7 linked regions of the Homo sapiens genome follow. The protein of the gene in region 4 purifies or fractionates together with the protein of the main gene of each other region. This does not show direct contact. Each region holds a gene or a part of one and is shown on either strand. Other genes may lie near its edges. The genes, in order: PYM1, TGFBR3, TBC1D3G, PIP5K1A, KRR1, TFB1M and DDX55.

Region 1 (3,500 bases), on a different chromosome or scaffold from region 4:
TGACCAATATGGTGAAACCCCGTCTCTACTAAAACTACTAAAATTAGCTGAGTGTGGTGGCATGGTGGCGTGGGCCTGTCATCTCAGCTACTCGGGAGGTTGAGACAGGAGAATCGCTTGAACCCAGGAGGCAGAGGTTGCAGTGAGCTGAGTTCGCACCACTGCACTCCAGCCTGGGCGACAGAGCGAGACTCTGTCTCAAAAATAAATAATAAATAAATATTTAAATTTATTTTTTATGTTCTTCCATAGCTGTTTCCCCAACCTTTTCCAGATCTGTGTGACCATCCCTTTTAATTCTCCTTCTTTTGGCAGAAGACTTCATTTTTATTTCACTGAAAACTCAAGGCCTATCATTTTTGTTTCCTTTTTCTTCACAGCCAGATTTTGTTTGTTTCTTTCTTTTTTTAAAAATGAAGCGATGCAGACTTGCTATGTTGCCCAGGCTGGTTTTGAACTCCTGGCCTTAAGTGATCTTCCCACCTCAGTCTGCCAAAATGTTGGGATTACAGGTGTGAGCATGCACCTGGCCCCAGATTTCTCGAATATGAAGAAATCTCCTGATATTTCTGTTTCCTTGCTGCCTATTTGTTCTTAACTCTTTGCAGTCATTATTTCTAGCACTACCCTCTCTCGAGTTGCCTATGCCTTTTTCTAATTGTTTCGTGAATATCTTCACTCTTGGATATACTGTTATACCTCAAATCCAACCTGACCAAAACCAGTATCAGTTTTTCCATCACTATTTCTGTTAAAGGCACCATTATTCTAGCCAACCCAAGGTAAACTTTTGTATCGTTTCTTTTTTTTTTTTTCTTTGAGACAGAGTCTCACTCTGTCGCCCAGGCTGGAGTGCAGTAGCGCGATCTCGGCTCACTGCAACCTCCGCCTCCCTGGTTCAAGTGATTCTTCTGCCTCAGCCTCCTGAGTAGCTGGGATTACAGGCACATGTCACCACGCTTGGCTAATTTTTGTATTGTTAGTAGAGACAGGGTTTCATCATATTGGTCAGGTTGGCCTCGAACTCCTGACCTCGTGATCTGCCAGCCTTGGCCTCCCAAAGTGCTGGGATTACAGGCATGAGTCACCACGCCTAGCCATTTCTTTTTTTAATATTCTAAATATACTTGATTTTTTAGAACACTTTTAGATTTATAGAAAAATTGAGAAGATGCTACAGAGATTTCCCATATACCCTACACTCAGTTTCCCCATTACTGTCATCTTACGTTAATATAGTACTTTGCTTGCAATTAATGAAGCAATATTGATATATTACTATTAACTAGAATCCATACATCATTTCATTAGTTTTGTTTTTTTTTTTTTTCAGACAGGGTCTTGCTCTGTCACCCAGGCTGGAGTGCAGTGGTGCAATCACCATTTACTGTAGTCTTAACTTCTGGGCTCAAGTGATCCTCACATCTCAACCTACTGAGTAGCTGGGACTACAGGTACACACCACCACGCCTGGCTAATTTTTGTATTTTTTGTAGAAATGCGGTCTTGCTCTGTTGCCCAGTCTGATCTCAAATTCCTGGGCTCAAGCAATCCTCACGCCCTGGCCTCCCAAAGTGCTAGAATTACAGGTGTGAACCACCATGCCTGGCTGATTTCCTTAGTTTTTACTTAATTTATTTTTATATTTATTTATTTATTACTATTTTTTTGAGACGGAGTTCTGCTCTTGTTGCCCAGGCTGGAGTGCAATGGTGAGATCTCAGCTCACCGCAACCTCTGCCTCCCGGGTTCAAGTGATTCTCCTGCCTCAGCCTCCTGGGTAGCTGGGATTACAGGCATGTGCCACCATGCCCGGCTAATTTTGTATTTTTAGTAGAGATGGGTTTCTCCATGTTGGTCAGGTTGGTCTCAAACTCCTGACCTCGGGTGATCTGCCCACCTCGGCCTCCCAAAGTGCTGGGATTACAGGTGTGAGCCACTGCGCCCAGCCTTTTTACCTAATTTTTTTTTGTTGTTCCAGGATCTTATCCAGGGTACTACATAACATTTAGTTCTCATGTCTCTTTAAGCTCCTCTTGGCTGTGACATTTTCTCAGGCTTTCCTTGTTTTCCATGACCTTGAGTTTTGAGGAGTACTGGTCAGGTATTTTGTAGGATATCCTTCTATTGGAATTTGTCTGATGTATTTCTCATGATTAGATTTGGGTTATGTGTTTTGGGGAGGAAGACCACAGAGGTAAAGTGACATTTTCATCACATTGTATCAGGGTACATAGTATCACAATGATTTTTTACTGTTAATATTTTTGTTTTTTTGAGACAGGGTCTTCCCTCTGTTGCCCAGACTGGAGTGCGGTGATGCCATCATGGCTCACTGAAATCTTGACCTCCCAGTCTCAATTGATCCTCCCACCTCAGCCTCCTGAGTATCTAGGACCACAGGCGTGTGCTATCATGACCAGCTAATTTTTTTTTTTTTTTTTTTTTTGGTAAAGATGGTCTCACTATGTTGCCTGGGCTGGTCTTGAACTCCTGAGCTCAAGGTATTGTTCCCCTTTGGCCTACCAAAATTCTGGGATTACTAGGCATGAGTCACTATGCCCAGCCTGTTAGTATTGACCGTGATCATCTGGCAGAGATATTGTTTGTAAGGCTTCACTGTAAAGTTAGGCTTTACCCCCTTCCTTTCCATACTGTAGGGAAGTCACTATTGCCAGCCCACGCATAAGGAGTAGAGAGTTGTGCTCTCCTTAAAAAAAGAGATTAAGGGCTGGGCATGGTGGCATATGCCTGTAATCCCAGCACTTTGGGAGGCTGAGGCTGGAGGATTGCTTGAGGCCATCCTAAGCAACATAGCAAGACCTCTTATCTACAAAAAGATTTAAAAAAAAAACGAGCTGGGTAAGGTGGCACACACCTGTGGTCCCAGCTACTCAGGGAGCCTCAGAGGGGAAGATTGAGCCAGGGAGGCTGAGGCTGCATTGAGCCGTGATTGTGCCACTGTACTCCATCCTCAGTGAGAGGCTGTCTCAAAAAACAATTAAAAAAACACACTATTTGGCATTTTTCTGCCCAGGAGATTTTTTTCTTTTCCTTTATTAATTTATGTATATCAATATGGACTTATAGATGTGTATTTTATATGTTAGGTTATAATCCAATACTATTTTATTTGCTTTATTGCTCAAATGTTCCAGTTTTGAACATTGGGAACTCTTTTAGTTTTTTACTTGGCCCATCTCCCTTTGACATTTGCCATCATTGCAGGTATGATTTTGTTCTCTGCTCCAGTCCTGCGGTCTGCCATTTCTCCAAGAAGCCCTTGTTCTTTTTACTAAAGAGTAATGTTAAAAACTAAGATCTGATCACTAGGTGTTTTTATTTCTATGGGAGTATTTTTTTTTATTTATGGGAGTTTTATTTTTTTATGATTATTTTTATTATCATCTTTTACTTCTCTCTTGCCCTCCTCATGTATATCAGTTATCAAAATATCATTCTTTTATTCCTACTGCTGTTACCCTTATCCCATCTACAGT
Region 2 (3,500 bases), about 59 Mb from region 4:
GGTTAACTATGATACCCACTAGGTTGGTCTTGTATATGAAAGGTATCTTCTGCCATAGTTTTGTTTCTGTGATCTGCCATAATTATGTATAATTTCATATGTGCATTTATTCTGTGGCTATCTCACACAGAGTAAACTGATTTCCAGTCCTTTCGCAGTCATATATCAATGTCTAAAAGGCTAAGAATCAAGCAGTGTTATTAATAATGTATGTATGGAATTTTCTCATTTAACTCACAGATTTTAAGTCTTAGGTATGGAGGTAGGAGGAAAAACCACCATTTCCAAATAGATTACAATTGATCTGAATTCCTTGCATCATTATAGTCCCCTGGGCATCCTTTTCTCTGATAACACCCAAGAGAATTTTGTTTGCATACGAAAATAGAGCAGATATGATCATAATCATTGGGGAGCACATATACAGTGATTTAGACTATATTCCTAGGTTTGCTTTTGCGGCGGTGATGCCTTAGCCTTGTAGGCATTCACCATCAGGGTTGGGGCTTAGTGGACAGTGGTAGAGAGCCATGAGGAGCTTCATGTGTGGCTGTGGGACCAGCTGCTTCCTGTGGGCAGAAGGGTAACGTTTAAGGGTTAGAGGTCTTGGAGGGGAGACCTAGCAGTTACCAGGGATCTTTGCTGTGGCTTTGGCTGTTACTTCTCTCTGACCTGGCCTGGAACAGCCCAGCTTCATGTGTGTTAATCTGGGAAAATTAATCGTAAAGAGAGTTCTAAGCCTCAGGGGATGACATGATGGGATATAACCCTAAACCTCAAGTCGCCCTTTACCCCCAAGGTAAGATAACATGGAAAGAGCCTGGGACTGAGAAGGAAGCTCTGCTGCCACCAATGGGACTTTAAGCCAGTCTCTGGACCCCTTAGAGCCTGTATTTCCTCATATACTGTTATAATCATACCTGGCTTCCCTCCTGGGTAGAGGAGCAAATAGGACAGTATGTACAATGACAGCCCTTTATCTGGCAGAGGCTTGGATGAGCTGTTACCACTGTCTTTCTGTTTGCTGCTTATAGGTAATATTTTCACATTTCTATTATTTTCTGAGTGCTTTCTGTGACAATAGAGAGCGCCAAAGAATCTTCTAGGAAGAGATCTCAGAGATTGTTGAGACCAACCCTGCCCTTTGCTGATGAAACCGAGACCCGGAGAGCAGAGTGTCTTGCCCAGGGTCACACTCCACTGAGTTAAATGCGGAATCATAGACTCTTGCTTAACTGAAGAGCTCAATAGGAAAGTAACAGTAAACTAAAACAGGAAAGCAAAATGCAACTCTTTTCAGTCATCATGCCTCTCCACAGAAAATTTGTTGTTTTTCTTTACAAGAGGGCTCTTGTTAAAGGCTTTTCTCTTTTTGAGGGGGTAAGAGTAGGGCAGTGAGGGTTGTCTTATAAGAAGTGTCTGACTGGCATGTTGCTCAGAGCAGCAATGACAGCAAGGCCTAAAGTCTTTGCTCTTTTGTGTTTGGAAAAGATGGAACTTGATTAGCTTTTTGGGATGCCTGCTATAGACTTAAAATGATGGCTGTATTAATATGTCTTCTTACCATAGAAGCTGTCATTTACTTTAGAGTTATACCTATTAGGCTGGGCGTGGGCTCATGCCTGTCATCCTAGCACTTTGGGAGGCTGAGCTTGGCAGCTTGCTGGGAGTTCGAGACCAGCCTGGTCAGCATAGTGAGACCCCTGTCACTACTATATATATATTAGCTGGGTGTAGTGGTGCACACCTGTAGTCCCAGCTACTGGGGAGGCTGAGGCAGGAGTATGACTTGAGCCCATGAGGCCAAGGCTGCAGTGAGCCATGATTGTACCACTGTACTCCAGCCTGGGTAACACAGCAAGACCCTGTCTCAAGAAAAATAAAAAAGAACTATACCTATTGATAAATATAGACAAGAAAACAAAGTTATTTTAAAGAAAAAGTGCGGAGTGTGATCATATTTTTTCAAAACAGATGTAGTGGGCCTGAGCATGCTCATTAATAGGTTTGAAGCGGCTAATCTCATGGCCTCCACAACCTGGGCACAGCCCCCAGGATCTGCATTTTGAAACATTAAAAGCAGATGACCCTGGAAAGTTTAGTTTTACATGAGCCTATACCAGGATTAAAAATGAAACAAACTCAGCAACATGATTATCTTATTGGAGAAAAATGTAAAATCTGTCACCTTCATAATGCAGTATAGACAGTCCCCATACAACCATTCTGTTTTTCAATCTAAGTATTCAATAAATTATGTGAGCTATTCAACACTTTGTTATGAAATAAGCTTTGTGTTACATGATTTTTCCAGCTGTAGGTTAACGTAAGTGTTCTGAGCATGTTTAAAGTAGGCTGGACTAAGCTGTGTTGTTCGGTACTTTAGGTGTATTAAACACATTTTCAACTTAGTGATATTTTCAGTTTACAGTGGGTTTGTCAAGATGTAACCTCATCATAAGTTGAGGAGCGTCTTTATGGGAAATTTCCCACAATCACCAATCACAAACATGAACCGTGTATATGAAGCCCAGCTTGGTGAGGACCAACACTAGGCATATAGTTTTTCTGTTTTTCAAACTAACACTAAAATGTTTAGTTTTGTGAGAAGAAGGGGAGGGGGAGGACAATATTGAGAAGCTATCCAGTGATATTTGCATCTTCAGGTACAACCAAAAATCCACTGGGCCTGCTGTCATATCTCCCAGGTTATTTGGTGTTCTCTGAAAAACACCCACCTTCTTGCTTTTCTGTAGTGAACAGCTGTGTGCTGTCTGATAAAAGGCCACAGGACAGCTGTGCAGGTAGAGCTGGTGAAGGCACTTTTGAGTGGCCCCTGATTCTGTGCTTTGTTCTGCCTGTCTGCAGTGTGTGCCTCCTGACGAAGCCTGCACCTCGCTGGACGCCTCGATAATCTGGGCCATGATGCAGAATAAGAAGACGTTCACTAAGCCCCTTGCTGTGATCCACCATGAAGCAGAATCTAAAGGTGTGCTTTGGGAGGCACGATCAGAGCATGGGGCCTGAGCTCTGCTTGTTAAGAAGACCCAATAGTGTAAATCAAAGTCCAGCTTTATTCACAAGATAACTAAAGGGCCAGTTAGTTACTTTAGAAGACCATTTTTTGCCCGAAGAGTCTTTTCTTTAGCTGGTTCTCTTACAGCCATTATGGCTTAGTTGTAAGTAATCTATTTGAAAATGATTTCCTCTGTAAAAAGAATCAGGTCTAGGTTGTTCCTGTCATAAGGTCACTCTCCCTTGCATTCAAATATGCTTCCTTGAGTATGCAAAAAAGGGTTCTAGTTAGTCCCATGTCCCGGGAATTGCACACAATCCACAGTTCATCTTTCTGTGATCTACTGCTAAAGTTTATGCTGGCTATAACCTATTGTATTGCTTTATCAAAATTGCAAATGCCTTTGAGAATATGTGAACATTATTCATCTTAGGTGTAACAGATGAGAACCACTGCCCAAATGCATCTTAAAATTCAGTTTTCA
Region 3 (3,500 bases), on a different chromosome or scaffold from region 4:
GGGTTTGGCTGAAAGGAAAACAGACGCGGTCAGCATCTCCAGTGAGCCCACGCAGGCCTTTCCGGGCTGGGCCCCACCTGCCTGCGTCTCTGGAGTCCTCGGGGTCTCTGTGTGGCCCCCGTGGCCTGACACCGAGGACACGCCTGTAGTCTGCTGATCCCAGAGGGAGGGGTGCATGCTGCCTGGCGTGGGGAAGCTGTCGTGGCATGGCGGGTGGCTCCTGGGACTGCCCCCAGGGTTCAGACTGGCTGGGGGCTTCCTGCCACACACCTTCGTCCCAGGGCTGTTGGGCCTGGGATACGGCCCCCAGTCAGAACTCAGGTGGGAGGGGCCTTGGATGTCACCCAGCCCCTTGTCACCTCACGTGGGGACCCGTCTCCGCAGTGGGTGATTGGGCCCGGACGTGGGTCACCCTCTGCCCTCCTGGGCTGCCCAGTCCATGCCAGGACTGACCGTTCCCACTTCTGGCTGAACTCTTGGCTCTGGCTCTGGGCCCTCTCCCTGAATGCTCTGTGGGTCAGGGACACGGATTCCCTTGTCTCCCTGGCTCCAGGCTTCTTGTCCTGGCAACCTTGGAGGAGCGTGCAGGAGTGAGGGGCCTCTGCTGCTCTCTGAGGCTGTGGGTGCTTGCAGGGAGGGGCGGGGTCTCCCACAAATGGGTCTGGGCTCGTCTAGTAACTTGGAGGGCCCTGCGAGGGGGAGAGGGAGACACCGTGGAAAGTGGGAGGGGGCTTGTTGGAGGGTCTTGCCCACATCCCCCTCCTGCATGCACAGCATGTCCAGTATACACGCACTGAGCGCCTGCCCTGAGGACCGGTGGGCCTCCTGTACTTTCTTAGAGTCCAGGAGGAAGAGGAGGAAGAAAAGGTGAAGAGGAAGGCCCAGGTAGTAGGGTTGCGGGTCCCGGGCACTCCCCTACTACTGACTACCCCAGAGGGTGACATGGGAGGGGACATGGCACTGGAGCCCACCTGGGGGTGGCAGGTCCCCCTGCTTTCTTGTTAGTTTCTTCATAGAGGCCCTAAGATGCTTGAGCACAGTGTCCTCATCCCTGGCCCAGGTATCAACGAACCGGTTGCAAAAACGTGCCCACGGGCCACACCTGGACGTCTTCGTGAGGCGCTCTAGGGACAGGGTGGATATCAGGCCAGGGGAGTTACCTGGGAATGGTCACAGCTCATATCCCGTGGCCACTTCAGTCTCCTACTGGGCGGTGCCGGATCCTTTTGTGGCCACCCCAGGTGTCCAGATATACACAGGAGACTGTGGCTGGGGGGCGATCCGGACAGGGAAGTGCTCACCACACTCTCGACTTTCATCTGGGTCATGTGGGGGATGGGCTCAGTGTCACAGTGTCCTGCCCAGCCCACCTGGCCAGACCTCCCTCTGGGCCAGAACAGCGGATCATGAGGACAGTGTGAGGAAGCTGCCCTCGGGCCAGTCGGGGTCTGACCCCAGGGCTCCCCAGGCCCCGCTGGGCACACGTAGACTTACTCTGCTGAACCTTAAAGGCGATTCTTGTTATCGGCATCAACGCCTGTTCGCCTTCTACCAGATACACGTCCCACAGGCGCAGGGTGAGCCCGAGAGAGATCTGTGGGGACAGCAGGTGTGAAAGAACCTGGTCCTTCCAGGCTGGGGCTGGTGGCTCGAGCTGCGCACACTGGGGCTTCAGTCTCCAGAGTCAGTGACCTTCCCCATGAGGGTCGCCTGAGCCCTCCAGGACGCTGGGTCAGACAAGGTCTTGAAGCTCCTCATGGGGGGCACTCATTTGAGTGGGGATGTGGCTCCTGGAGAGAGGGGCTTGCCCAGGGCTTGAGGCTTCCCTGAGCCCTCTCAAGTCGGGTCCTGGCCCAGTCTGCCCATGAGGCTGGGCCTGAGCCCCAGCCATGGCCCTGGGATGACCCCCCTTGGGCAGAGGGTTTTGCTTGTGTGTCCTTTGGGGACCCGCCTGAGCCTCCTGTGGGCTGGGAGTGAGCCAGACCCCCGGGCTGGGGAAGCAGGGCACTGCAGGGCAAGGAAGGTCCCTGAGCCAGGGTCTCCCTATGCCTCCTTACCCCGTCAATCAATATCCGGATGAGGCAGCCTAACGGGGAACACTGCCCACATAGATCTTTCTTGTCCTGATGGAAGCAACAGAGGTGCTCAGGCCACTGGGCTGCCCTAAAAACCTCCCTCTTCCAGGGCCTCTGAAGACCCTTCCCCTAGTGCAGAACACTGGGCGGTGTCCAGAGCTCCCCACAACACTGTCACCTTCCCACACTCCCGGTGGACACACTGCCCTTTGCCCTGCTCTGTGGGAGCTGGGCCCCCATCCCTGTGCCTCTGTCTCCTCCAGGGCAGGAAAGGAAACCAACTCCCAGCCCATGGAGAACCCGACGTCCCAGGTCAGGCCCTGGCTGGGACTCAGCCAGTCACCAGCCCCACGAGGGGCTCCAGCCCCCCTGCTCCTACAGCCCCACGGGAGGCAGGGCCTCTGGGAAGAGCTGAGGGGACCATAAACTCACCTGATGCCCCATGGTCTTGGGTTGTGACGTGGCTACCACATGCTCCTGTTGGTCTTGGAGCCCCTGGACGGTCCCGCCATTTGGGCTGTGAAATCCTGAGAAGCCCCCAGCCCATCATGAAATCAGAGCCTTCCCCCAAGATGTGGAGCCATCAGCTGCAAGAGCTGGGCAGCTGGAGAGGCCCCCAAACCCCAAGGCCTCCCACCCTCCCATCTGGTGACCCCAACATGCGGCCTTTACCCTGGGGAGGTGGGGCGGGAACATTCCCTGGAGCCTGGCTGGAGGTTCCCCTGGAGGCCTCCTGGGCCAGGGTGCAAAAAGGGCAAGCCTGACTTTCAGGCCACGACAGGGTGGCCGGAACTGGGTGGGCGCTGGGCTTCCCGGTCATCTCCTGGTAGTGGGGTCGGGCCAGGGAACAGGGGATGGGGAGATGCTGCCACCTGGGCTTGGTCGGCCCATTCGTGGGCACCGATGGCAGCAGGAGCCCGGGCAGCTGGAGGGCAGGAGGACTCTCAGGGAGGGGAGAGTCAGCTGCACAGAATCAGAGCCGGAGGGCGTGGCTCCAGGACACAGAGGGTGGCCACGGGGAGGATGAGATGCCCTCTGCTGATGGGGATGACAGGCGTCTGATTTGGGCTTTGGGGGTCAGCCGTGGACTCCTGTGGGACCCTCAGCAGAGACATCCTAAAGTCTCCCAACAAGCTGGCGACACAAGGAGGGTGCCTTGGCTGAAAGCTGTGATCACCTGGCCAGGGTGGCCATCCCCAGGTCTGGCTGCAGGAGGTCCCCGGGGCAGCTGTTCACTTACCCTGCAGGGAGTGCCTCTCACTGGCCAGCAGCTGCACCAGTGCCCAGAATGCATCCTCCTCAGGAAGATAGAGGAGGAACAAGGCGGCGATGTGGCTCAGGTCCCTGCAGTAGCCCACCTCCTGCAAGAGCCAGAGTCACCATGGAAGGACATCACCTGGGAGGGCTGAGGTCACCTGGGAGGAC
Region 4 (3,998 bases):
AAACATTTATACAATCTGTATTATTAACTGTTAGTGAGAGGATCTGACAGAAAACATAAAGACCTACAAAAATACCAAAGAGTACAAAGCAAACACCTGACTTAATAGTTGAGAAGTTTGTTTATGGACCATACACAACCCTTCTTCTTTCTGGGTTGGGGATTAGAGGGGAAGCAGGTTTCAAATTAAGGAGCTACTCTATTAAAAATAAAAACCCAGGTGGGGCACGGTGGCTCACGCCTATAATCCCAGCACTTTGGGAAGCCAAGGCGGGCGGATCACAGGGTCAGGAGATCGAGACCATCCTGGCTAACACGGTGAAACCCCGTCTCTACTAAAAATACAAAAAACAAAATTAGCCAGGCGTGGTGGTGGGCGCCTGTAGTCCCAGCTACTCGGGAGGCTGAGGCAAAAGAATGGCGTGAACCCGGGAGGCAGAGCTTGCAGTGAGCCGAGATGGCCCCACTGCACTCCAGCCTGGGCGACAGAGCGAGACTCCGTCTCAAAAATAAATAAATAAATAAATAAATAAATAAATACCCTGTCACTTTTACTTTATCCTATTTCATGCTTATAATGCAGCATGAGTTGTTCTGGTCCCCTAATACTTTTATAGGAAAGGTAAAAAATCCCCTCTCAACAAACTAAAAATAGAGATTTATTAAAAATAAATAAAACTGCAGCTTATTAAGAAGATATGTGTGACTAGATATTTCAGCATCTGAGCTGGAATGTGAAAGGTGGAAGGAACCCTATTCAGCAAATTCTAAACAGCAAAAACGCAACACCAGGCCTGAGGAAATACCAAAATCTCAAGCAAAGCATCCAACATCTGGCAGCGTCTATTCCAGTGTAGAAGCAGCAGTTACTGTGAAACACCAGACACTTCTGATGGAAGCGCTCAGTTTCTGACTCACCTCCCGCCCCCCCACCCGACACACATACACACACTTTCTCCCCTACACACAATCTACTGCTTTTCTTGTGAGCCTCCTCAGCCCTCCCTCAATCTTCATTCGTTTTTAACTATTAATACGCTGAGCTCTCTACATTAACCTGGCTCCATTCTCCAAATTCCAATCTCCTGATACAGCGTAAGCATTCTTCCAGTCCATTTTTCTATTATGCAATACTCCCCCACAACACTTACAGTCACCCCCCCACCCATCTTTCTTCTTCTCAGGCCTAATTTCCAAAACATCACTTCTCGCAGTCTCTACTGCAATTCAAGACTCCATTCCATCTTTCCCATCTGTTTTTAAGGTCTTTGACCTTAATTTCCTACATTCCTTAGACTCTCTTCAAAATTTCCATTCCTTCCCAAAGTTGGGCAGTTTAGAGTTGGGAATCACCAAAGGAATTAGTCTGAGAAAGTATGTATGTGTGTCTGTGTGCCTGTGCGGCCCTAAGGGTGGGGGTGCGAAGTGAGAAGGGGTGACACATTAGGGGGGAGTATCTGAGGGAAAAGATGGCTTCAACAACTCCCGCCCACCCAACAAAATTCACGATTCCCTACCTCTCCAGAAATCGAAAGCGTCCAATAACTTTTCGATATCTTTTAAGTCCCATGGCTTCTCTTCAACATTTTCATCCAATTAGCCCACAATCAACTTAGATTCCACCTGCCTCTCACACTAAGTAGTTCTCTCTACTTCTTAGGCCTCCATTTACTTTCTTAGTTTCTCTACTCCCTTCCGTTTCTCTTGTTTCCTACCGCAACTTCTTTTTTTTTTTTTTTGAGACAGGGTCTCACTCTCTCGCCCAGACTGGAGAGCAGTGGCCCAATCTCGGCTCACCGCAAGCTCTGCCTCCCAGGCTCAAGGGATTATCCTGCCTCAGCCTCCCAAGTAGCTGGGATTACAGATGCACGCCACTACTGTCCGGATAATTTTTGTATTTTTAGTAGGGACGAGATTTCTCTATGTTGGCCAGGCTCGTCTCGAACTTCTGACCTCAAATGATCCGCCCGCCAAGGCCTCCCAAAGTGCTGAGATTACAGGCGTGAGCCACCGCGCCGGGCCACCCTACCCCCACCTTCAATCTCCATCCGTCCTCCTCAAAGACAACCAAAGTTTTCGACAACTTCTTAATCAAACTTATCCTTTCCTCAAACTCCTGCCCGCTCATAAATCCCTATTTGAAAGCCCAGCTCGCGCCCACTTACCGGTAACACGTAGGACATTCCCAGCTACAGGTACCCTCTTAGGTCTCGCTCTTCCTCCCATCGCATATTCCTCACCAGCTCCCTACCCACGCCCTGCCGGGCTTACCTGAGGACAAGGTACAGGAAGGGACCGCGGGATCAAAGGATGAAAAACCGACCGAAGACGACGGCCCGGAGGAGGCCGACGCCATCTTAGCAGCCCCCTCCCCCTCAGCGGCCTGGCTCTCTTTCAATCCGGTTCTTCCTCTTCTCGGAATCGAATCTTCCCAACGTCTCTTTACAGAACCCGCGTTCTGTGGGCCACCTCCCCGCCCCCTCCGGGGCCTCCCTCAGACACGTCGAGCCGGCTCCTGGACCAGCTCAAGGCCACACCATTCGCCTGGCATGGGGAAGAACTCACGTCCCGCACCCCCTCCACAAGTTTAACCGCTTTCCACAGGGGATACTTTCCCCTTTCACAGAAGAGTAAGCTTAAGCTGGCTGCTGGGACCTTGCGCCCAGACCAAGCCACATCTGAAAAAAAAACGAGGCATGAAAAGTCCCAAAGGAGCGAACGCCCCTTCTCCGTCCTTCCTAACCACGGCCTGTTAATCGCCCAACCCGGCCGCTTCACTCCGGGTAGCCAAGCAAAAAATCCGAGCACTGCGCATGCGCCCGACCTTCTCGGGGCATCAGCCCACTCATTGGGGAGAAAAAAGGAGCAAAACCAATCGGGAGGCTGCTAATGGTCACGTGAGGTGGGTCCTCACGCCCTGACGAGTCCACGGGTGGAAGATGTGCGCGCGCGGGTTGGCCGACAGTCCCTACGGTGGCTCGGCAGGTCCTCTTAGGTTCAGTTCTTTGCTAGGACTGGGTCGAGTGATCTGAACTCGGGACAAGAGTCGGTCCGCCAAGTCCTCTGAAATTCCTAACCCAGGAAAGAACTCTCTGCGGGAGTACTGGTGTCAAGTCAGAGACGTTAAGGTGTCGAATATCACAAAACATTTAATACCACCAAGAACTCTTCTTAGTCTTTTTCCTGTTTTACTACTCTTGTTTACTATTTGATTAAACGTGCGTGCATGTCTTACCTTCCTCGGAATGGCATTCGAAATAGATCTGTGTTTTGTTTGCCTCAAGCACAAAGTTAGGCACTGCACAGTGACGGAGTTCAGTAAATATTTGATGCATGAATCAGTGAAGACCTGTCAAAAAAGGGCACGGGAGGCTATCAGGGACTTATCACAACCTTCCCGCGACCCAACCCCTTTAGCCTCCAACTGTCAATTATCTGTGCTCCAAAGGGCATGGAGATACACAGAAAAATTTCTCCCATTGTAGTCTTCGTAGTAACTGCTCGTTTTTAACAAAGTACCCCGTAGGCTATGAACCCTGGTGGGAAGACCAGTCTCTCTGAGCAGACTGTAAAACTTCTGGGGAGCAAGGACTGTGTTTGGTTCACTCTTGTATCTCCAGCTCCTCCAGTGACTTCGTACATAGTAGGGGCTCCATAATTATCTGTGGAATGAATAAATAAAGAGGAATGGTAAAACATTCGGGGTAAGAGTCGGTCAGATAGATCCTCTCAAACTCATGGCCCATGAAATAACTCCATTAAAACAGGTTTTGTGGCCGGGCGCGGTGGCTCACGCCTGTAATCCCAGCACTCTGGGAGGCCGAGGCGGGTGGATCACGAGGCCAGGAGATCGAGACCATCCTGGCTAACACGGTGAAACCCCGTCTCTACTAAAAATACAAAAAATTAGCCGGGCGTGGTGGCGGGCGCCTGTAGTCCCAGGCTACTCGGGAGCCTGGGGCAGGAGAATGGCATGAACCTGGGAGGCGGAGCTTGCAG
Region 5 (3,500 bases), on a different chromosome or scaffold from region 4:
ATTCTAATGCACAAACAGATAAAGCAGAGCTATTTTGGGTAAATTAGGGGTAGACTTCAGCCTACTTAATTCTACCCCAGTTTTGTAGGTACTTCTTAGAAGCTCTCTGTGGAGCACAGTGTGAAAACTACTGAAGGGGATACTGTAATATGTTATATAGTTGTAATCAATGAAAGTAAGCTTCACAGAATCTGTTGTAGATCATATCAATCCAGTTTTCTTAGATTATGAACCCATGTATTTAAGGATATGATCTTTCGGAAATCTGCCTTTTTCTATTAAAATCTGGAACATCTCATGTTGCGTTAAAACCTTTTTATGAATTTAACACTCAAATTGTAGCTCCTTTGAGAGAGAACTGTTATATCCCTGTGTGCACAAAGTTTGATTATTCTTGGAAATGTAACCATGGTATATAGAACTATTTTATGATGGGTTTGTTGAGCAATCCACTTAAATTTGATGAACTTAAGTTATAAAGTCACTGTTAGATTGGGGGAAAGTGATTTTGAGTTACATTGGGATATTGGGATATTGCAGACAAAAACAAAACTATGTGTCTGATCCCTGGTTTGCATCCTCTGATGTTCCATGGTCTGAAATTTAAATGGAATAGGGAAATGTGAAAATACTGGTTTTCTGTAATCGTGAGAAAGTTTACTTTTGTCTTTTTCTGTGATATTTCAGTTGCTACTGAAAACTTCCTGCTTGCAGGGAACATCAGCTAATTAAGAGCCCTCCCTGCTTTTATAAGTGGCATTTTAAATGTTTTAATGAAATAATGGTTGAAAATTCAGTTTTATTTTTGTCTCATTTTAACAATTCTGCATTTTGTAATTAAATTTCTAATGGTTTTCTAATAATTATACATGTTTGTGATAACCTACCTTTTTGCTTATGTAATTGGTTTAATTTCACCAAAGAAACTAGGAACTGTTTCTTTTATTATTTATAGAAGCAATATTTATAATGTCTGAGTCTGACAAATGTGTGACTTTGGAAAGTAAAAATTTTTACTTTGTTGCATGACTAAAGAGCTTAATGATTAAGAGAGAGTTGGCAAAAGATTCTGAATTACGATCACAAAGTTGGGAGAGATTTTTGCCACAGTTCAAACACAAAAATGTGAATAAACGCAAGGAACCAAAGAAAAAAACTGTTAAGAAAGAATATACGCCATTCCCACCACCACAACCAGAAAGTCAGGTTAGTACTAAATGTAGAACTTCATATGAAGGAGAATCTATTTTAATGTATTTGGTCAGAAACTTTATTGAAAGTATTTCAGGTGGGATATGTGTATATATATATATTGTGTGTGTGTGTGCAGAGCTATAAGAAACTGAGGGTAAATATAAATAGGCATATTTTGAGCTGAGTGCATGGGGGTGTGCAGTGGGGCGTTCACATTGATTATAAACTGCATCCAGGAGGTTTGTGACCCTGTAGCCACTGTAAATGTTCCATGGATAAAAGTTCGTTTAGTCTGCAATACTCTTTTCTCTGATTTGGCAACATTATTGTGACTGTGTGCTCTATGGTTGTTCTTGTTCTGAAATCTTAAATTGTAAATTGTAACACCCACCGTTTTTCTAAGTTATGATTCCTTTTGTCAGGTGTCTTCTGCTTCATTTCCTTTCCCACCATGACCAGTTTCCATTTTGTTCTTGCACATCATTGTTTTGATTCATGCCCCTTTTTACTTCTGTCCCACCTTCTCAGCAAAGCTCTAAAACTTGGATCAGTCTAAAAACTTGACTTCTTCCTTGCAACGTGGCTACCAAATTAAGTTAGAGAAAGTTTTATCTTTGGATTAATTTCATTCAAAATTCATGTTTCCTCTTAATTCTCTCAGTGCCCTCCCATGTTTAGCATATGACATTGCATTTTATTGAAATATTTGAGACCACCAGATAAGAACCCCTTTCTGTTTCCTCTTCTCTCACGTATGGGTTTTCTTCCACCTGCATCAGCCTCTTCTATGTGTTCTTTGAATTCCATCTTCACCTGTCTCCTGGGGGTTCTTGCTTCATTATTCCCTTCCTTGGCTATATCCTAAAGCCTTCCCTTTCTACTTCTGCTCAGCATGTGAACTCATTGCTTTCTACATCTCTTTTTTCCACAACCATGGTTGGAGTCTTTCAGGGAAGATTTGTGATTGACGGGGAAAATGATGATCATAGTGAAAAAACAATGGAAGTTTTGGATCATGGAGGAAATTGATAGTAGTTAGGGGGAAAGTGGAGTGATGCAGTCATTAAACCATGCTTCCATAACACCTGCCTTATTTCTTATGGCCCTTTCTTGTAGTAATTGACTTATCTTTCTTCTGTAGCTGTGTAAGCTTCTTGAAACAGTGATGTCTCGATTGACTTGTTCTTAACACTTAATTCATTATGTGACTGGGCGAGTTATTTATCCCATCCATACTTAAGTTTCCCCATACCTAAAGTGGGAGTAATGGTAATACCTATCTTAAAGAATTGTTAGTGAGGATTAAATGAGTAATTATAAAGAGCTTAGAACAGTGCCTTAGATATAATAATGCTATGTAAGTGGGAGACAGGTCAGTTATACACATTTTACATGTTGGCTGTATATTGAATGAACAAGCTGTTGCTTTTGCTAATTAGTCACCAATTCCTGATAGTTCTGGCTTTTATTCTGCATGCCACTACCTTTATTCCAGGCTCTCATCTATTCTTCATTCCTCTCCATTAAAATTATTCTTTGGTCTTTACAGTCTTCTCAGAAACCTACAGTCATTTCTAAATCTTATCCCTCCTACTTTGTCTGCCATTGAAGCTTCTTCAAATTTTCCCCAAAACTCTCTCTCCAGTTTCTTCTCACACTTTTCTGAATCAGTGACCTTCCATGCCATATCCCTGAACTACTCTGGGTTGTATTCCATGGAGGTGCTTTCCTACCTCCACACTTTTGTGTATGTATTCCCCTCAGCTTAGACTCTGTTTCCTTTATGTCACTACCATTTTTATTAATAAATCAGTTTGACCCCATTGTTTTTACCCTAAGGATATTGTGACTTGCTTAGGACATGACTTCTCCTCTACATTATTTCTGATGTAATTGTAAATACCGTTTTCAACAGATCGATAAAGAATTGGCTAGTGGTGAATACTTTTTGAAGGCAAATCAGAAGAAGCGGCAGAAAATGGAAGCAATAAAGGTACGGCACTTTATGTCTGGCTCACATGAATAGCAAAGTTCATAGATACTTGAATTATTTAACTATAAATACATTTAACTGATATATTTTTTATTTATTAATGTAGGCTAAACAAGCAGAAGCCATCAGTAAGAGACAAGAGGAAAGAAACAAAGCATTTATTCCACCTAAGGAAAAACCAATTGTGAAACCTAAGGAAGGTAATGCTTTCTATGATGTAAAAGTCTTTATTAATTAGGAAAAGTAAACCCATAATAAATTTGTCTGAATCTTTTTAAGAAACAGTTGTATCTTTTCATCAGTTCTCTTAGCA
Region 6 (3,500 bases), on a different chromosome or scaffold from region 4:
ACAGGACAGAGAGAAAGGAGTCCTCAGGAAGAACAACCAGTCCAGATTGGAGCCAATTAAAAGGGGAATTTGATAAAACTACTGTCAAGTTTGCATAGAGTCAAAAAAAAGTTGCAAAAACTCAGGAGAGTTTAAGATTGAATTCATGATAAATAAATAGAAAACTAAATATAACAGGGAGTGAATCAAGGGAAATATACCATTATTGGAATGAGAAGTACAAAAATATTATTTGGAGATAAATAATTATTTTGAAAACCTAAGAAAAAATGAGAGACATATATAAAAATAACTACAAAACCTAACTGAGAATCTCAAGGTCACTGAGATAAATCCAGAAAAATATCATAGCCCCAGAAGGAAAAATGATTATTTTAAAGAAGCTGATTTTTCCAAGAATTCTGTATATCTAATTATAATCCTCAAAGAACTTATCTTGAAATACGCAGTTCTAAGGATCATCTGGAGGAATAGACCTGCAACAATACATAAGAAATGTTGAAAAGGGAGAGTGATGAGAAAAGACTTCCTTGTCATATGCTAAAATGTATGGTGAAGCTTTAATAATTAAAGCAGTATGAGAAGCAGCACGTGACAGAGCAATTACTAGACTAGAAAGCCCGATGCAGACACCTTAGCAGTATCTGATAATGGTCAGATCAAAAATCAGCAGTGAAGGAAAGAATTAAGTAAATGCATGGATATTTGGTTAACTATTATGAAAAAAAATTATCTCTAAATTCCATTTGGGTCTTTGGATCTTCTCTTTCTGTCCTCATTACATTCATGCCTTCCTTGGCATTTTTCTATGTATGTATGTATGTATGATATTTAAAGTAGATGTTTTGGCCAGGCGTGCTGGCTCACACCTGTAATCTCAACACTTTGGGAGGCTAAGGTGGGAGGATTGCTTGAGCCCAGAGTTCGAGACCAGCCTGGGTAACATAGCTCCCTATGTTACCTTGTCTCTACAAAAAATAAATAAAAAATTAGCCAGGTCCGGTGCTGCATGCCTGTGGTCTCGACTACTCAGGAGGCTGAGGTGGGAGGATCACCTGAGCCCAGGAGATCAAATTACAGTGAGCCGTGATCATGTCACTGCACTCCAGCCTGGGCGGCAGAGCAAGACCCTGTCTCAAAAAATTGAACAAATAAGTAGCTGTTTTAAGATCCTTGCCTGCTAATTTCATTACCTCTATCATTTCTGTACTCTTTTAGTGATTGATTTCCCCTTCTTGCTATAGGTTGCATTTTTCTGTTTCTTTGAAAGCCTGATAATTTCTGACAAAACATCAGGTATTGTGAGAGTTTTATTTTTTTTAATGCTGATGAGGGCTGGATTTTGTGGTATTGGGTTGAGTGTTGGGTTTGTTGTGACACATAGATAAGATTGCTTGAGGCTTTTATTGTTCTGGTGGATCCAGGGTAGCTTTTAATTTGGGGCTCGTTGAGCCCCAGTACTACATCATGCCCTTTCTGAGGAAGGCACCCAACGCCCTGCATGTTACAAGGCCTCTTGAGCCATGTGAGCCCCAGTTGCTCCTGCCTTCCCCTGGTTCTAGTTCAGGCTCCCAAGCCTCAGGCACCTGCAGATCAGTGCTCAGCAGGGGACTTGGGGGACCCTTGGGACCCTTTTGCTACCTCAGGAGCTCTGCCTCACATTCTCTCTCCCTCTCCTGTTCCTGTCTCCCCCACCCGCTGCTCCTGCACACGTGTGAGCACCGCGTGTGTGCGTTTTCCATGTCTCTGGTAGTCTGCCCCACAAATTCTGCCTGCCGAGGCCTCCCAGATCTCCAGGTCTGGCTCCCTGAGCCCAGGAGACCTCTAGGCTCAGTTTGAGCTGCCCCCTGCCTCTGCTGCAGCCTGAGAAGGGCCTCCAGTCCTCTTCAGGCCGGGCATCTAAGGCTCATCTCCTTTCCATTTCAGTAATGACAGTCCTGCTCCACCTGTTGTCCTGTTTATGCAAACTCTTGTTTCCTATGACTTATTCAGCTTTATACTTGTTTCAGAACAAAACTTTTTAATGCCAGAATTTGTTTGAAATCAATAGACTCTACTACTACATAAGCTTAATTCTTTAAATGCCTTCCTCTCAGATAATTTGAGTGTATCATAAGAATTTCATTTCTTAGATCTATCCCTCTCTTTTTACCCTTGTTTCTGTTTAGGGGAATCATTTCCAACAAGGGCACTTTTGCCTTATCTGCTCCTCAGGGGCATTTGGCAATGTCTGACATGTTTTTGGTTGTCACACCAGGGAGGGGGCTCTGGTCTCTAGTGGATAGAAGGTTAGGGATGCTGGGAAGCATTCTTCAGTGCACAGCAGAGCCTCCCACAGCGAAGAACCACCCAACATTAATCAGCCCAAGATGTCAGTCATGCCAAGGTTGGAAAACTTTCCTTTAGATGATTTGGCCATAAAATCTTTCTCTCAGGAGTCTTGGAACTTCCCATCATAAAAACGTAGGACCGTTGCATGTTTGTTAGGAACCCTGAGATGATATCACCACTTTTCTTAAGGTCTTTGTCATTTCCTCTTCATGAACCTGCTAATTCTCTTGGGTTGGTTTGAATTGGGCCCATGCTGAGTTTTCTTTGTTGTTTTTCTCAACCTTTGGATATGTTGGTTCTGACAGAAACCATTCTTGTTTCCTCTGCACTTATACAACTTCTGACACCAGATGTGTGGGTTTTTTCCACACCAAGCAATCTCCAATTCTCCGAACACCAGCTGGGTATCCTGCAGTTTCATTCAATTCTGACACTGTCCACATGTTTTTAGTGTTAGATCCCACAAGTTAAGGGCCAAGTCCCACAAGACTGCGCCTCACTTCAGATGACAGTCACAAATCTGGGCCTCTAGGAGTTCTGAGCGACCAGCTATAAAATAAATCAGAGGGTTCCATGTCCCCCTCCTCAGATTGAATCATTTTTCAGAATGGCTCAAAAACTCAGGGAAACACCTTACCTACACTTGAGTAATGGGTAATCAATTGGTCTCAGTGACCAGCCCCATCTTGAGCTACCTAGAGGCCTCATCCTAAGTTATCTCATTACTGTAAACTCTGGGGGACTTGTGAATTTAAAGCAAGACATGCCGATTACTCAGGAAATTTCAAGGGCTTTAGGAGCCAGCGACAAAGTCCAAATATATTTCTTATTAAACCACATCTGTGGATTTATTTTTCTCAGCCGACATGATTATTTTGGTATTTCTGCTCTTGAATAACACAATAGAGATACAAAATACTATGTACTCTATTTGTGTGGGGGGAAACACAAAGAAACAGAGGCTTAAGAAGAGGTGGAGTAATATTTTCGGTGACTCAGCATGTCAGTTGTGGTTATTAATAATAGTGTTGCTTCGACTTCACCATATGCAATTCTTTTTCTTTAACAAAAAAAGTTGATTTTAGTTCAATTTTAGCATGAATATTGAGAAGAGTTTATATAGAGTCTATAATTTATGGAATGCCTTAGAAGTCTAGGTAACACTGGTC
Region 7 (3,500 bases), on a different chromosome or scaffold from region 4:
ATAAAACTTGGTATTTTGGTAATCATCAACCACATTCCCAAGATCCAGAGAGTTTGGTAAATGTTAACTTTCTTTCCAAAGTGGGAACATCATTGTGGCCACTCCAGGCCGCTTGGAGGACATGTTCCGGAGGAAGGCCGAAGGCTTGGATCTGGCCAGCTGTGTGCGATCCCTGGATGTCCTGGTGTTGGATGAGGCAGACAGACTTCTGGACATGGGGTTTGAGGCAAGGTACTGGACTTTGGACTTCACTGGCTTGAGTGGGCAGATGATACTAATACAAAAGGGGAGCAAAATGGAGTTTACTGTTTCATGACTAGGTATTTTTATTTTTTATTTTCATTTTTATTTATTTTTTATTTATTTGTTTATTAGAGACAGGGTCTTGTGCTGTCACCCAGGCTGGAGTGCAGTGGTGTGATTATGTTCACTGCAGCCTCAACCTCTCGGGCTCAGATGATCCTCCTGCATCAGCCTCCCGGGTAGCTGGGATTACAGGTGCACACCACCATGCCTGGATGGTTTTTTTATTTTTTGCAGATGAGGTTTTGCCATGTTGCCCAGTCTGTTCTCAAACTCCTGGACTTAAGTGATCCTCCTACCTAGGGTACCCAAAGTGCTAGGATTACAGGTGCCAGCCACCATGCCTGGCCTAAGTATTTTTATTAACCACATTTTAATTTCAAATCATTAAGTAGTTTGAGCTTTCAAATTCTACCACGTGATTTTATTCCAGTTCTATCTTTGATCTTAAAATGCACTTTCCTTCAAGTTTTTTTTTTTTTTTTTTTTTTGAGACAGGGTCTCACTCTGTCATCCAGGCTAGAATGCAGTGGCATGATTTCGGGTCATTGCGACCTTTACTTCCTGGGCTTAAGTGATCCTCCCACCTCAGCCTCCTGAGTCATCTGGGACTACAGGCACATGCCATCATGCTTTTTTTTTTTAATTTTTGGCAGAGACAAGATCCCATTATGTTGCCCAGGTTGGTCTCAAACTCCTGGGCTCAAGAGATCTTCCCATCCCAGTCTCCCGAAGTGCTGGGATTACAAGCATGAGCCATCACACCTGGCAGTTTTGTTGTTTTTTAATAAACAGCTTTATGGGATATAATTCACATATCATTATAATTGTATGCTAAAATTTGAGGAACCTTGGAAAAATGAAAGTATAAAGAAGAAACAAAGAATCACCTATAATCTCACCTCCCAGTGTATGTGCTATAAATATTTTGATGGCTTCACTTTCAGTCTTTTTGAATACCTGTTTAGTATCGTGAAGCACTGTGTGTTGATTCTGCTGGCAAGTGAGCGGTTAAGTGTGAGCCCTCTTTTTATCAGCATCAACACCATTCTGGAGTTTTTGCCAAAGCAGAGGAGAACAGGCCTTTTCTCTGCCACTCAGACGCAGGAAGTGGAGAACCTGGTGAGAGCGGGCCTCCGGAACCCTGTCCGGGTCTCAGTGAAGGAGAAGGGCGTGGCAGCCAGCAGTGCCCAGAAGACCCCCTCCCGCCTGGAAAACTACTACATGGTAAGCGCCTGGGCTTGCTTCTTACTCAGCGATAATGACCAGTGCTCATTTTATGGAAATTGTACTGGTAGAATAAATATGTGAGACCCTGTAGCACCTATGAAATGCATTTGGGGACAGAGCTAGCTAGGGCAAATGGCCTGAGTGGTCCTACTCATTGAATGAATAAGTTAAATTGGACATAAATGTATTTTAAGCACAGTCTCTAAGGACAGAGTCTCTGAACCTCCTACCCTCAAGTGACCAAATGTTTCTATTGTACATGCTTGGGGTGTGCTGGGTGCAGCCATGACTAAGCTCTGTAGTTCCTGGGCCCGTCAGAACAGCCTGTCTGACAGAGAAGGGCATAGTTAGATGTGCAGGTGGAACACAGAAAATCAAATGACAGACTCACTCCTAAGGAGACTTTGTGGGGTGGAAATGTTCTGCTCCGTAAATGTTGTGTATTTTTGACCTGCATCAAATATGCTGAGTTTCTTTTTTTTTTTTTTTTTTTTTTTTGAGACAGAGTCTGGCTCTGTCGCCCAGGCTGGAGTGCAGTGGCGCGATCTCAGCTCACTGCAAGCTCCGCCTCCTGGGTTCATGCCATTCTCCTGCCTCAGCCTCCCGAATAGCTGGGACTACAGGCGCCCGCCACCACGCCCGGCTAATTTTTTGTTAGCCCTGTTAGCCAGGATGGTCTCCATCTCCTGACCTGGTGATCCACCTGCCTCGGCCTCCCAAAGTGCTGGGATTACAGGTGTGAGCCACCGCGCCCGGCCGTTTTTTTTTGTTTGTTTTTTTTTGTTTTGAGACGGGGTCTCACCCTGTCACCCAGGCTGGAGTGCAATGGCACGATCTCGGCTCACTGCAACCTCTGCCTCCTGGTTCAAGCAATTCTTCTGCCTCAGTCTCCCGAGTAGCTGGGATTACAGGCATGTGCCACCATGCCCAGCTAATTTTTTGTATCTTTAGTAGAGGTGGGGTTTCACCACATTGGACAGGCTGGTCTTGAACTCCTGACCTCATGATCCTCCTGCCTCAGCCTCCCAAAGTGCTGGGATTACAAGAATGAGCCATCATGCCTGGCCCAAATATGCTGAATTTCTAGTAGTAAATACTGGCTGCTGGCTTCTGTAGTTTCTTCACAAAGAAGTAGATGGGCTTTTGGCAACTTGATTGTTTAGTAATGAGGCCACTCCTCACCCCTGTTCTGTTCTGTCCCATTGCTGGGATGGGCCAGGAGGCACAAATGTAGAGAGCACAGGCTGCAGGGGAGGCAGCACCATCAGGGCGAGGAGGCACCCACAGGCCAGTGCCACTGCTGACGGTACACTGGCCCACCAGCCCGGGGCTGGGGCTTTTCTTTCTCTTTTGCAATAAGCTTTCTCAGGTTAAATTTTTCGTTAGGCCTGGAGGGGTTCCCTAGCTCCTGAACATGTCTGCTGTTCAAAATGAAGGAGGCTGGTCTCGAAACCAGAATGTTCCTATTGCTGCAGACTGTGAGGTTGTCGAGGCTGCTCTCCGGTTTGTGTCAATTTGTAGGCAGATTAAAGGTAGAATGAGTTTGCAAATGAGAAACTGCACCTAGTGTAACTGGAGAGTGTTGTCAAAATCAGATAGGCTCATCAGAAGTGGGAGTTGTAGTTGCCATTGATGTTTCTGACAAGCTGGACTGGGTGAGGGAGGAGGCTAGCTCTTCCCAAGCAGAGGGAAGGACTCTGCATAGGGTAGTGTGGAGAGCATGGGCGCTAGAGCAGGACTGCCTGGTGCATATCTTGGCTTTGGCCCCTACCAGATTTAACCGATGAACTTAGAGGTCCTTACTTGTCAAATGGGGGCCACAGTAGTATACAGCTTCGTAGGGTTGCTGCAGGATTAATTAATTAATCCATGCAAAAATGTTCATGATAGTGCTTAGTACACAATAAGTATGGGTTGAGCATTCCTAACTTGAAATTCCAAAATCCAAAATCCTCCAAAATCTGAAG

What was found.
Region 1: the proteins of PIP5K1A (region 4) and PYM1 purify together in Homo sapiens (co-immunoprecipitation; one large-scale study listed by IntAct). This does not show direct contact.
Region 2: the proteins of PIP5K1A (region 4) and TGFBR3 purify together in Homo sapiens (affinity purification with mass spectrometry; 2 studies listed by BioGRID and IntAct, with this or other methods). This does not show direct contact.
Region 3: the proteins of PIP5K1A (region 4) and TBC1D3G purify together in Homo sapiens (co-immunoprecipitation; one large-scale study listed by IntAct). This does not show direct contact.
Region 5: the proteins of PIP5K1A (region 4) and KRR1 purify together in Homo sapiens (co-immunoprecipitation; one large-scale study listed by IntAct). This does not show direct contact.
Region 6: the proteins of PIP5K1A (region 4) and TFB1M purify together in Homo sapiens (co-immunoprecipitation; one large-scale study listed by IntAct). This does not show direct contact.
Region 7: the proteins of PIP5K1A (region 4) and DDX55 purify together in Homo sapiens (co-immunoprecipitation; one large-scale study listed by IntAct). This does not show direct contact.

The regions. Positions count from the first base shown.
Region 1 is NC_000012.12:55,921,395-55,924,894, reverse strand, and holds part of PYM1 (partner of Y14 and mago), read left to right. Parts: intron 1-1,123; exon of another isoform or gene 1,124-1,454; intron 1,455-3,500. UniProt on the Homo sapiens protein: Key regulator of the exon junction complex (EJC), a multiprotein complex that associates immediately upstream of the exon-exon junction on mRNAs and serves as a positional landmark for the intron exon structure of genes and directs post-transcriptional processes in the cytoplasm such as mRNA export, nonsense-mediated mRNA decay (NMD) or translation.
Region 2 is NC_000001.11:91,708,152-91,711,651, reverse strand, and holds part of TGFBR3 (transforming growth factor beta receptor type 3 isoform a precursor), read left to right. Parts: intron 1-2,868; coding exon 2,869-2,989; intron 2,990-3,500. UniProt on the Homo sapiens protein: Cell surface receptor that regulates diverse cellular processes including cell proliferation, differentiation, migration, and apoptosis.
Region 3 is NC_000017.11:36,330,384-36,333,883, reverse strand, and holds part of TBC1D3G (TBC1 domain family member 3G), read right to left. Parts: intron 3,437-3,500; coding exon 3,316-3,436; intron 2,603-3,315; coding exon 2,508-2,602; intron 2,124-2,507; coding exon 2,058-2,123; intron 1,595-2,057; coding exon 1,495-1,594; intron 1,125-1,494; coding exon 972-1,124; intron 9-971; coding exon 1-8. UniProt on the Homo sapiens protein: Acts as a GTPase activating protein for RAB5. Does not act on RAB4 or RAB11.
Region 4 is NC_000001.11:151,197,354-151,201,351, reverse strand, and holds the start of PIP5K1A (phosphatidylinositol 4-phosphate 5-kinase type-1 alpha), read right to left. Parts: upstream 2,801-3,998; 5' UTR 2,356-2,800; coding exon 2,271-2,355; exon of another isoform or gene 2,226-2,270; coding exon of another isoform or gene 2,165-2,225; intron 1-2,164. UniProt on the Homo sapiens protein: Catalyzes the phosphorylation of phosphatidylinositol 4-phosphate (PtdIns(4)P/PI4P) to form phosphatidylinositol 4,5-bisphosphate (PtdIns(4,5)P2/PIP2), a lipid second messenger that regulates several cellular processes such as signal transduction, vesicle trafficking, actin cytoskeleton dynamics, cell adhesion, and cell motility.
Region 5 is NC_000012.12:75,501,610-75,505,109, reverse strand, and holds part of KRR1 (KRR1 small subunit processome component homolog), read left to right. Parts: intron 1-1,035; coding exon 1,036-1,206; intron 1,207-1,246; exon of another isoform or gene 1,247-3,109; coding exon 3,110-3,187; exon of another isoform or gene 3,188-3,293; coding exon 3,294-3,387; exon of another isoform or gene 3,388-3,500. UniProt on the Homo sapiens protein: Part of the small subunit (SSU) processome, first precursor of the small eukaryotic ribosomal subunit.
Region 6 is NC_000006.12:155,290,485-155,293,984, reverse strand, and holds part of TFB1M (dimethyladenosine transferase 1, mitochondrial), read left to right. Parts: intron 1-3,500. UniProt on the Homo sapiens protein: Mitochondrial methyltransferase which uses S-adenosyl methionine to dimethylate two highly conserved adjacent adenosine residues (A1583 and A1584) within the loop of helix 45 at the 3-prime end of 12S rRNA, thereby regulating the assembly or stability of the small subunit of the mitochondrial ribosome.
Region 7 is NC_000012.12:123,608,599-123,612,098, forward strand, and holds part of DDX55 (ATP-dependent RNA helicase DDX55), read left to right. Parts: intron 1-81; coding exon 82-231; intron 232-1,340; coding exon 1,341-1,530; intron 1,531-3,500. UniProt on the Homo sapiens protein: Probable ATP-binding RNA helicase. Has ATPase activity and is involved in the maturation of precursor large subunit rRNAs.